2 separate regions of the Homo sapiens genome follow, and region 2 is reported to be linked to region 1. Evidence: microRNA targets listed by miRTarBase, many of them from high-throughput screens and not tested one by one. Region 1 holds a microRNA gene; the other region holds the end of a gene's coding sequence.

Region 1 (5,520 bases):
ACACGTTTCTATGAATATCAGTGTTGGTACAATTCTTGTGAAGGTGGTTACATTTGTGCGTGTTTACAGTGGAGTTGGTGGGGTCAGTAGGAACCTAGGGTCAAAAAATGGGATACAGTCTCCCCCTTTATGCAGTTGATCTTTTCTTGCTGCCCCAAACCTTCCCGAGAGCTTCCCGGAAAGGTGTGCTGACTTCAGGCGTGACACACTGGTAAGGCGTCCTCCCGGGGATCTGGGTGCATGTTGTCCCCAGAGCATTCATACGTAAGTGACAGGCATCACCTGGTCTCCCTCCATCCCCACGGAGGGTTCTGGGTGAGACGCTGACTCCGGAGGGAAGCAGAAGTTCTACGGTCAGTGGGGTCTGGTCTTTCAGGACAGTTGCTTCTGTGAACTCAGAAAATCTGAGACAGCTCTTAGTTAATTTAGAAAGTTTATTTTGACAAGGTTGAGGATACACCCGTAACACAGCTTCAGGAAGTACTGTGGTCAAGGCACAGCTTGGCTTTATACATTTTAGGGAGACATGAGACATCATTCAGCACATGTAAGAAGTACATTGGTTTTGTCTGCAAAGGTGGGACAACTTGAAGCGAAGGCAGGAAGGAGGGAGCTTCCAGGTCACAGACAGGTGATACACAAATGATTACATTCTTTCGCGTTTCTCATGAGCCTTTCCAAAGGAGGCAAATCAGATACGCATCTGTCTCAGTGAGCAGAGGGATGACTTTGAATGGAATGAGAGGCAGGTTTATCCTGAGCAGCTTCCAGCTTGAGTTTTCCTTAGTGATTTTAGGGGCCCGAGATAACTTTCCTTTCACACTTCCAAGGCTATTGATGAACACACAGGCATCCAGGAACATTCTGGGGTTCAGTCCTTCCTCAGACTCTGCTGTTGATACCTTACATGGTTCCATGCTGGCCCCAAGGACGTGCCCTTCGTTGGTGCCGAATGTCATTTGGTCATAGAGGCTGAAAGTCATTCTGGAGTTGATGTTTCCAAGGTCAAAAACCTTGCTGGGGCTGTGGAAAGAGCTCGTTGTTTGCTGGCCTGCTTTGTTGGTGACCAGCATTGCACATGGCTTTCTTTTCAGATCAAACCCTACCTGGAGAATTTCCAGAAGCAACAGCACCCTCAGGAGGCGGCCTGCAGCCGGAGCCCTCTCCAGGGCAGGTGCCTGAGGGCCGCCCATGGGACAGGCCCGATTGTACCCACGGTGCATGTCATCTGTTCCACTCCTGCTGACTCCGGTGCGTTCCGGGACCACCTTGGGAGGTGATGCCTGCCCCAGGAAGGAGGCTCTGATGCAGGTCAGTGCCCATGGCTCCTGAAGGGAAGTCGTCTGTGACATCTTTTCTTTCTTTACAGCAGGCCTCGCATGGCTGGCCTCTTGCTCCACTTGTAGCAAGGCGCAGAGGGCTCTCTGAGCTCATGCCAACGTCAGGGAAAGGATTCTGCTGTCGGTCCCACTCCAAAGTTCACAGAATGGGTGGTGGGCACAGAATCTGGACTCTGCTTGTGGCATCCATCGTCTGGCCCGATGCTTGCTGGCTGCCCGCTCCAGGAGGCACCTTCTGGGTGTTCTCTGAGTCTGGGGAAGGTTGGGTTCTGAGGTCAGGGCTGCCCTGACCCTTGTGAAGAGAAGACATCTGTGACTCACCTGCTTTCTTCTGCTGCATTTATCCCCCCAGTCCCTTATTTTGAATGTCTCACTTGCTTTATGAGGCTAATCAGATGGTCAGCCAGCTGTTGATAACTGTGAAGTTACTCTTTGAGGGATCCTGGGGTGATGCCTCTGTGGGCTGGAGATGGTGCTGGTGAGACCGCAGGTCTGGGGTCAGCGTTGTGCCCCGTTGAGCTCCCGCCAAAGGAATCCTCTGCTGGGAGGGAGGCTCTGTGCTTGTGCAGGGGTCCCTACAGGGTCACCCCCTCTCAGGGTCTGGGAATGAAAAGCGGGTGCGAGCAGGGTTTCATTTTCATCTTTAGCAAGGTGCCCAAGGAAGGTTGCCGTCTTTTCAGTATAAGATCCTACCTGGGTCTTGCACTCAACTTCTGGGAAGAGTCTCTAGATTCATTCTGGAAGGGGTTGGAATCGTTGGACTTGGTGATTGGGAACGTCCTTGGAGAGTGTGAGGCTCTGGGCTCTGAATGCCCAGACCTTGTGCTGCCCTTGGGGGAGGGTCTTCTGCAAGCACAGCCGCCTGCAAGCATTCACCTTAGTCCGAGCATCTGAGCCTCTCCATGGTACTCGGGGAGAGGTTACCCGAGCAACTTTGCATCTGGACGACGAATGTTGCTCGGTGAACCCCTTTTCGGTATCAAATTCCACCAGGGAGGCCGTCTTGGAGGCTGGGGCACCTCGGGGAAGGACGCCGGCATCAGCACCATTCTGGGGTACGGGGATGGATGGTCGACCAGTTGGAAAGTAATTGTTTCTAATGTACTTCACCTGGTCCACTAGCCGTCCGTATCCGCTGCAGCCTGTGGGGCCTGCGGGCCGGGGAGCCGATCGCGCTTCAGCTCAGCGCCTTTCCTGGTACTTGAAGGGAGATCGACCGTGTTATATTCGCTTTATTGACTTCGAATAATACATGGTTGATCTTTTCTCAGTATCAAATCTCACCTTGGAGGACCCGTTGGAGATGAAGCCCTTTTGAGGGTAGGAGCAGGACGGGTGCTTTGGAGTCGCTGCCTCAGTGGGGCCTGGTCACCGAGAGTGGGCCGGGCAGGGGTCTCTTTCCTGTCTCTGTGTCTTCTCACCTTTGATGTCCCATCCGTCCTCAGGACTGCTTCCCGGGGGCAGCGCTGGCACCACGGGACGCGGCAGCCACGTTCTTGAGCCGATGGCACTCTGGGTACCTGAGAAGAGGTTGTCTGTGATGAGTTCGCTTTTATTAATGACGAATATAACACAGATGGCCTGTTTTCAGTACCGCTACCGCCCGGTGGTGTGCGGGCGCCACGCCTGAGGCGGGACTTTCCAGGGTACGTGAATGCATGGGCTGGTGTGACATTTGTCATCCTTTCCCCTGACCCCCGCCATTGAATCATTTTGGGAGAGCTTTCGGGGGGCCATGTGGACTTTGGGGAAGATGCTAGGGTTGTGCACTGTGGTGGGGGGCGGTCATGAAGCTGATGAGCAATGGTGACGGGGCTCAGTCTGTTTTTCATGGCCAGTGTCATCGAGGCAGAGGACACGGGGGAGCTAGTCCCGCTGGAAGGCATCCTGCTGGAAGGCCACCCACCCCTCGCCAGGATGTTGGGGGCGGCTGCATGCATTCCCTGCACCTGGGCTGCCTTCTGCTCATCTCAGTGCTGTGAGACCCTGGGTGGGAGCTGGTGCCTTGGGTGGCCGTGTGCGTGTGCTGCTCCTTGTGGTGCCTGAGGAGAGGTGGCCTGTGTTGCATTCACAGAAATCATGACACACAAGACACGAGCGGCCTCTCTTCAGTATCAGATCCCACCTGCATGATTCCTGCACCTGCTGATGTCGGGGAGGTCCGGTTGCGCGCCCTGTGGGCCCCCAGAGGCATGGCTGGTGGCCGAGCACGCGCTTGACTTCCACCTGCAGCCCTGTGCTGGCCTCCATCCTGGAGGCGGGTGGGTGGCAGGGCCCTTCCCTGTGGAAGAAGCCTCCTCCCTGGAGTCAGTGCTGCTCAGTGGTACCTGAAATAGGTTGCCTGTGAGGTGTTCACTTTCTATATGATGAATATTATACAGTCAACCTCTTTCCGATATCGAATCCCACCTTGGATGCCTTCCTCTTTGCTGTCAACTCCAGGCAGCAGCTGGCTCTGCGCTGGTTGACCCTGTGGACTTTGTGTAGGACCTGTGTCACTTGGCCTGTTAATTTTCCAGCTCCACTCTGTTCTGGGGGGCTTTGGAAGTGTGACAGAATGGCATCCCCAATTCCAGTGTCAGCGGGAGCACCCGCCATGCCCTTGCTTCCGGTTGGCACATCCCCCAGGCTGGGCTGGCTCTCAGCTACCCGATGCTTATGTCATATTTGCACCCCTGGCCTGCCCAGACTACAGGAAGATGACCAGAGGCCTGTTTGCAGCTGACCTGGAGACTTAGTGACTCCAGAACATGCTGCCCATGCCCAGGGTCCAGGGCTGAAGGCAAGGAGCACCTCAGGAGTGACCCCAAAGAATGAGCTAAGGCTGTCCTTTATCACTCATTGTTGATCAGTGAGCTCCTGGGCTCGGGAGATCTTCCTGAGCTGGGCTCCCGTCATCCCCTAGTTGAGACGTCGCTGCCTTGGAAGTCACAGCCTGTGCCTGCCCTCCCCCTTGTCCTCCTCCTCGGGACCGCTCCTCTCCATGCCTAGCATGGGAGTGGGGATCCCTGGCACCATCCCTCTGGGCTGCCTGCTCCCACTCTCCCTCAGCACCCCTCTTCCCCAGCCCCTGGGCCACAGCCCTGCTGGAGAGGCCGCCCCACAGGCTAGGTCCCTCCAGCCTGTGGCACTTGGGTCTCCCTCCAGTGCCCCTCCCTCTGCCAGGGAGAGCATTTCCAAGTGCAGAGTCCAGCTGTTTAACTCCGCTGCCCAGGGCACCTCTGCAGGCCCCTTCCCTTGGGCTTGGTACCAAAATGATCCGAGGACCCCCCAGGCCCTCAGAGTGGCAGCCCCCCTCTTCTTTTGGAGCCACAGCCTATCCCCCACGTGTTTTCATCCTTCATTCTGGCCTTGCACATGCCCCTCCTTCCGGAGCTGGGTCCTGGGCCGCCCTGCTCTGCCCTCGGCTGCCTCCTGTCCAGGCTCTGGCCCTTCCTTCCTTAAAGGCCCACATCCTTTGCATTTTCCTTTCCCAGGGGTTCACAATTCCCAAGGGGATGGAATGGCTCTTGTTCAGCAAGGTCATCCCTGATAACCCTATAAAAGCAGCTCCCCTTGCCTCTTCCCTATCACATTCTACCAGTTGCCCCGTTACTGTTTTCTTCCTAGCTTACAGTTCTCTGAAATTGCCTAATGTTAATGTCTACCTTCTTTGTGCCCTAGACTGTGAGATTTCTCATTGGCAGAAATTTCTCTCTCTCTCTCTCTCTCTCTCTCTCTCTCTCTCTCTCTCTCATCCCCTGCTGTGTTCAGTAGCAGAACAGTGAGTGTTTGTTGATTGACTAATGGAGTCCCCAAAGGCAGGGACCGGATCAGATGAATTCCCAGGCAGGTGCTGGGCACAAAGCAGGCAGTCAATAAGATGTGGTGATGGAGTACATGAATATGTTAATTGATTTTTAGAAATTCTTCCCATTTGTTCAAAGCTGTTTGGTTTTCTAGCTTTTTCTGCCCTTCCAGGATGAGGCTGAGATTAGCTGCAGGAGGCACGAGTCAGTTGGGTCTGGGTTCTCTCTTCCACTTGTCGGGGGGTGGGGGCACCAAAGCCCCAGAGGAAGTGACAGGCCCTGTGTTCCCCTGCAGATGCCGACTGATCGCGCCCCCGCCCCTCCAGCAAACGCCCCAGCGCTGAGAGCCAAATGCTCTGGGGAACTCCATCTGCAACGGGCTGGAGCGTGGT
Region 2 (5,000 bases), not on the chromosome of region 1:
AGAGATAAAGCAGTTAAACTTTACACTCTAAAGGTCATTTTCACATTTAGAGGCTGTTATTGCCATATCCCTAGATTGTAAATTATCATTTACAGAGCACTTACTCTATGTTAAGCACTGTGCTAAATACTGTAGTTTTCAAAATCCTGTAAATAATGTTGAGATGCCCATTTTACACTTGACACTATGTGTAAATTGTAGAGCTGACTCTTGAACCCCCACCTTACTCCAAAATCATTAACACCAAGAAACTAAAAGACAGATGTCTTTATTGGGTCTTAAACTGCAGGCAACACCAGTCAAAAAAGCTGGTTTCTCTATGTATTTTACACTGCATCTGCTGCCTCCCACAAACTGAAGGCAGTTAATACGACATCCACCAGAAAAATACCCTGGAGACCCAGATGGATCTTTTTCCTTCTCATTACCCACCCCAGGTAGTAAGATATAATATCCAGTAAGTGGAAAATCAGATGTAGGGGTTGCTAGACTAGTGTTAGCAAAAAATTGGAAAGGAGCAGTTAATACTCTTTCTGATATTTTTGTTACCAAATAGCTCCATCTTGGTTTCCTCCTCAGGATCGGAATGCGGGGTCGAGAGCTGATGGGCGGCATTGGGAAAACCATGATGCAGAGTGGCGGCACCTTTGGCACATTCATGGCCATTGGGATGGGCATCCGATGCTAACCATGGTTGCCAACTACATCTGTCCCTTCCCATCAATCCCAGCCCATGTACTAATAAAAGAAAGTCTTTGAGTAGTCAGTGTCCCTCTCTTAAAGGAATATTCTTCTCTCAGCCTATTATCCAGCTTTGCCAAGGATCTTCTGCACTAAAGAGATGGACTAACGTAATGACTAGGGTTAGTATCTCTTTCACAAGGCCTGCCTCTCTTAATCCAAAATTGGAAAACTTGGGAGTGTCTAGTATTTTCCATAGATACTATTCAACTAATTACTCAGTACAACTCTGTGCTTGTTACTACGGTCACCATTTTAAAGGAGAAAAACTACTTCAAAAAATGGATTTATAAGCCGAAATTTCCTCAAGGTCACACATTGCATTATTTCCAAAGCAATGTTCATCCTGAGGTTGGTTGTTTCCTTGGTCGCCCAGGTTGGAGTGCAGTGGCACGATCTCGGCTTACCGCAACTTCTGCCTCCTGTGTTCAAGCGTTTCTCCTGCCTCAGCCTCCCGAGTAGCTGTGATAACAGGCACGTGCCACCATGCCTAGCTAAATTTTGTATTGTTAGGCTGGGCGCGGTGGCTTATGCCTGTAATCCCAGCACTTTGGGAGGCAAAGGCTGGTGGATCACAAGGTCAGGAGATGGAGACCATCTTGGGTAACACGGTGACACCCCGTCTCTACTAAAAATACAAAAACTTAAGCCGGGTGTGTTGACACGCGCCTGTATTCCCAGCTACTCGGGAGGCTGAGGCAGGAGAATCGCTTGAACCCAGAAGGTGGAGGTTGCAGTGAGCTGAGATCGAGCCATTGCACTCCAGCCTGGGCGACAGAGCGAGACTCTGTCTCAAAACAAAAAAAATTTGTATTCTTAGTAGAGACGGGGTTTCACTGTGTTGGCCAGGCTGGTCTCAAACTCTTGACCTCATGATCCACCCGCCTCCGCCTCCCAGTGTTCACATATACAGGCATAAGGCACCACGTCCAGCCCGAGGTTGTTATTTAGATATACCTAGTGGCTTTATCAGAAAAAGCAAAACAGTTCATCCACTGTAAAAAAAAATAGAAACTTCTGTAGCTTCTCAACTGGCTAAATTCCAGATGATTTTCTAACCACTCATCAACAATCTATATAGCTTGCCCTCCACAAAACTTACTAGTTTGATGATAAAAAGCTTCTGTAATGAGGCAGTTGTCCATCTCACCTGCCCAGGCCACGCAGACCCTGGAGTTACTAACCCGCATTGCCCATTAAGCATTTCTTAAACAGAACTTTCAAAGATGGTAGTAATTATTATAAAGATAAAAGAAAACTAGATGAACACTTTGGAACACTGACAGGCAGGAGGAAATTAAGGACATTACCAGATTAGTTACAGATTTTCGAACCAGTGGGATGCTGACTCAGGAACTGATTGGACATAAACAGTTTCACTCAGAATGAGCTGTTTTCTATGCACGACACTATTCAAGTTACTACACTCCAACCACATTTCCTCTGAACATTATTTACACACCAAATTTCACTCTGGTAGCAACTAAATTTTGGCACAGATGAGATTAACCACTAAAGGCCACATTTGCTGGTCCAGTTCCCTAGAAAGCAATGACACAACAAATTTGTTAGGAAGACTTGGTTCAAGGGGAAAAACTGATAGCAGGAGATACTTTGGAAAAAGAGCACACTGACAGAGTGTCTCTGCCCCAAAGAACTCTGCAGTCTGGTATTGAAAAGTAAATTTTCAATGAGGCTGGGCGCGGTGGCTCATGCCTGTAATCCCGGCACTTTGGGAGGCCAAGGCGGACAGATCACTTGAGGTCAGTGTGAGACCAGCCGGGCTAACACCGTCTCTGCTAAAAATACAAAAATTAGCTGGGCACGGTGGTGCGCACCTGTCCCAGCTCTTCAGGAGACTGAGGTGGGAGAATTGCTTGAACCTGGGAGATGGAGCTGAGATCACATCACTGCACTCCAGCCTGGGCCAAAGAGCAAGACTCCATCTCAAAAAGAAAAAGAAATTGAACCTTGGGAGTTTCCATACAAATTAAATCACTAGAACAATTATTGGGATAAATGTCAAACAAAACGACTGATATGAAATTCTGAATAAGCCTGTAAAACTTGTGCTTCAATGCTAACAAAAAAAAAAGTTGAACAAATGAGGTAAGGAACTCAGTATTTGAAGATAAGCTAGGAGCAGCATTTCCTACTCAAAAGATTTACCAAGAGATAAACAGTTGAAGAGAATTGAGTATAAATGGTGACAGCTTGCTTCCCAACTAGTATGAAAGCTCAAAACCCCTTAATACAGTAATATATGCACCTTATTTAATATATTAATATATAAATCAATTTTGGAAACCAGTTTGAAGTTAAGCCATTTTGTTAAGTATGTATTGTAAATGGTGAAAATTTCTTCATAAATATGCCCAGACAATGCAGGAGACCAAGAATGCCCAGGTTTTAAGGCCAGGCTGTTTCCTTTTCTTTTTGGTAAACCCCTCAGTTTTGATACATTCTTCTAAAATACACAGGGCTAGACTCTAATAGAATAAAGGAATTCATGGGGGACAACGTGAGGGCAAGTTTCCGCAGACTCGGAACATTTTCCCAAGAGGCAAGTACTGAATTGAGACTAAAAGAAGCTAATTCTGTTCTCAAATTTCTGTAACTTTAAAACATTTGAAAAATGAAGATCTCCTGTGGCCTTTTTAAGAGACTTTTATTTGAGTGGTTCTTACAAAGATTGTTGCAATATGAAAGTCATTTGTTTGATAGAAATATCAAGCTGTCTTGTCAAACACACTGAAGTAACCCAAAAATATATTTCAGAGCTCACAGAGCTTAAAAAGAGCAAAGATTATATGCAACCAGACAAAACCTATTTCTGCATTTCCTATTTCTTTCTCAGACTGCTTTGCCTACCAGACTCTCACGTTTAAACATCTTCAGGAAATGCAGGGATCATTTTGTTTGGAATTTTAAGACACACCAGAACACATAGTATTTACAAAGAAACTTTTACAGATACATTAATTGAAAAGATACCATCAAGAAATATAATTTTGAAATCTCCCTTTCTTGCCAATTGATCAGAATGCAAGATGAGATGCTAACCAAACAGCCCTTTAGCTGTCTTGTATTTCCATACACTAAATGTGTATTTCAGAAACTGCTCAACCATCAGCCAAATATCAACATTAGTGAAATGTGAAATGTAACCACTGTGTAAAAAGTTAGGCTTCTGAAACATTAAAAACATTACATCCCTGGTCTGCCTTTTTACAGAAAGCACATTTGTTCTCCTAGAGCTATTCCTATAGTTCATTAATTTTCTACATGAACATTTTAAAAGGCAGAACAAGAGAACAGTTTTGTATACAGTGGGATTTACTATTTAGGGAGAATGAGCACACTGCATTCCTGTTAACATTTTTATTTTTTCAAGGTAACAGGAAATTGCATACAAATGACAGTAGATCCTTGCCTCTTTATTTTTATCTAAATAAAAGATAACTCAAGATGAATTCTCAAGAAAGAAAAAAAGCTATATACATAAGGGACTATATCTTCCTTCATCGTCTACTTGGAACCAGTAGCTGTGTTGCTGTCATAGAATCAGGAAACAGGTTGTGGTAAGTTGGAAGAGGTACATATGCTGCTGTTATCATTTTACCTATTAAAAGAAACAGACATGTTGGGTTTAGCATCTTCATTATAGAGCCTTAATAACAATCAGTCAAAAAATAAATTCAAACTCACCAGCAAACCACCTGCCATGCAATGCATTGACAGCAGCAATAGCTGCAGCAATTGATGGGCACTTCACATACACATTGCCCTACAGAAAAAATGAAAAAAAAGGTAAAGATGTTGCTGTATGCAAAATGGACCCAAGTTATGTTTATTCAAGTTGCCTGTAGAAACTTAGTGCTCTATAACCACAAACTGGTTTACCATAATGGTTCCACTGGCTAATAGGTATACTAGAATTTTATTAAAAAATGACTTCTACTCTCAAATTTGCCGTTTTATCTTTTCTCTACGATTTGTATGCAGCCTAAGAATGAATCAAGATGCCAAGATTTCATGGCAAGCTTTGAGCATTACTAGAAATCCTCTCATACCCTGATCAAATTGTTACTGATTTTCTTTTATTTTGGAGGGTTTATTTAGCCACTATATTAAAGCTACTTTCAGGCACACACACACAAAAACTATAATGGAAGACGGTTAACCATAACATGCACCACATAATGTGCGAAGATTAAGGTAGAGACGAACAACCTAACATCATTTATAAAAAAAGATGA

What was found. Region 1 holds the annotated microRNA hsa-miR-369-5p (AGAUCGACCGUGUUAUAUUCGC, at 2,550-2,571, shown strand). A microRNA usually pairs through its seed, bases 2 to 8, with sites in the 3' UTR of a target mRNA and lowers its output. Matches are read on the target gene's strand: a 7mer-m8 pairs with bases 2 to 8, a 7mer-A1 pairs with bases 2 to 7 and ends in A, and an 8mer does both.
Region 2: the mRNA of RBM39 is a reported target of hsa-miR-369-5p. The part of its 3' UTR that is shown has no 7-base or 8-base seed match.

The regions. Positions count from the first base shown.
Region 1 is chr14:101,063,057-101,068,576 of GRCh38, forward strand. It overlaps MIR369 (microRNA 369), which reads left to right and starts at 2,542; the gene lies at 2,542-2,611. It overlaps MIR541 (microRNA 541), which reads left to right and starts at 1,439; the gene lies at 1,439-1,522. MIR409 (microRNA 409) reads left to right here and starts at 2,244; the gene lies at 2,244-2,322. MIR412 (microRNA 412) reads left to right here and starts at 2,391; the gene lies at 2,391-2,481. It also overlaps MIR410 and MIR656.
Region 2 is chr20:35,700,219-35,705,218 of GRCh38, forward strand. RBM39 (RNA binding motif protein 39) reads right to left here. Exons shown (of 17, transcript NM_184234.3): 16 at 4,450-4,528; 17 at 1,129-4,363. The coding sequence ends at 4,263. It overlaps ROMO1 (reactive oxygen species modulator 1), which reads left to right. Exons shown (of 3, transcript NM_080748.3): 3 at 580-762. The coding sequence ends at 688. Among named protein-coding and RNA genes, the nearest start is that of ROMO1, 3.3 kb to the left of the region's middle. RefSeq lists an enhancer at 1-20.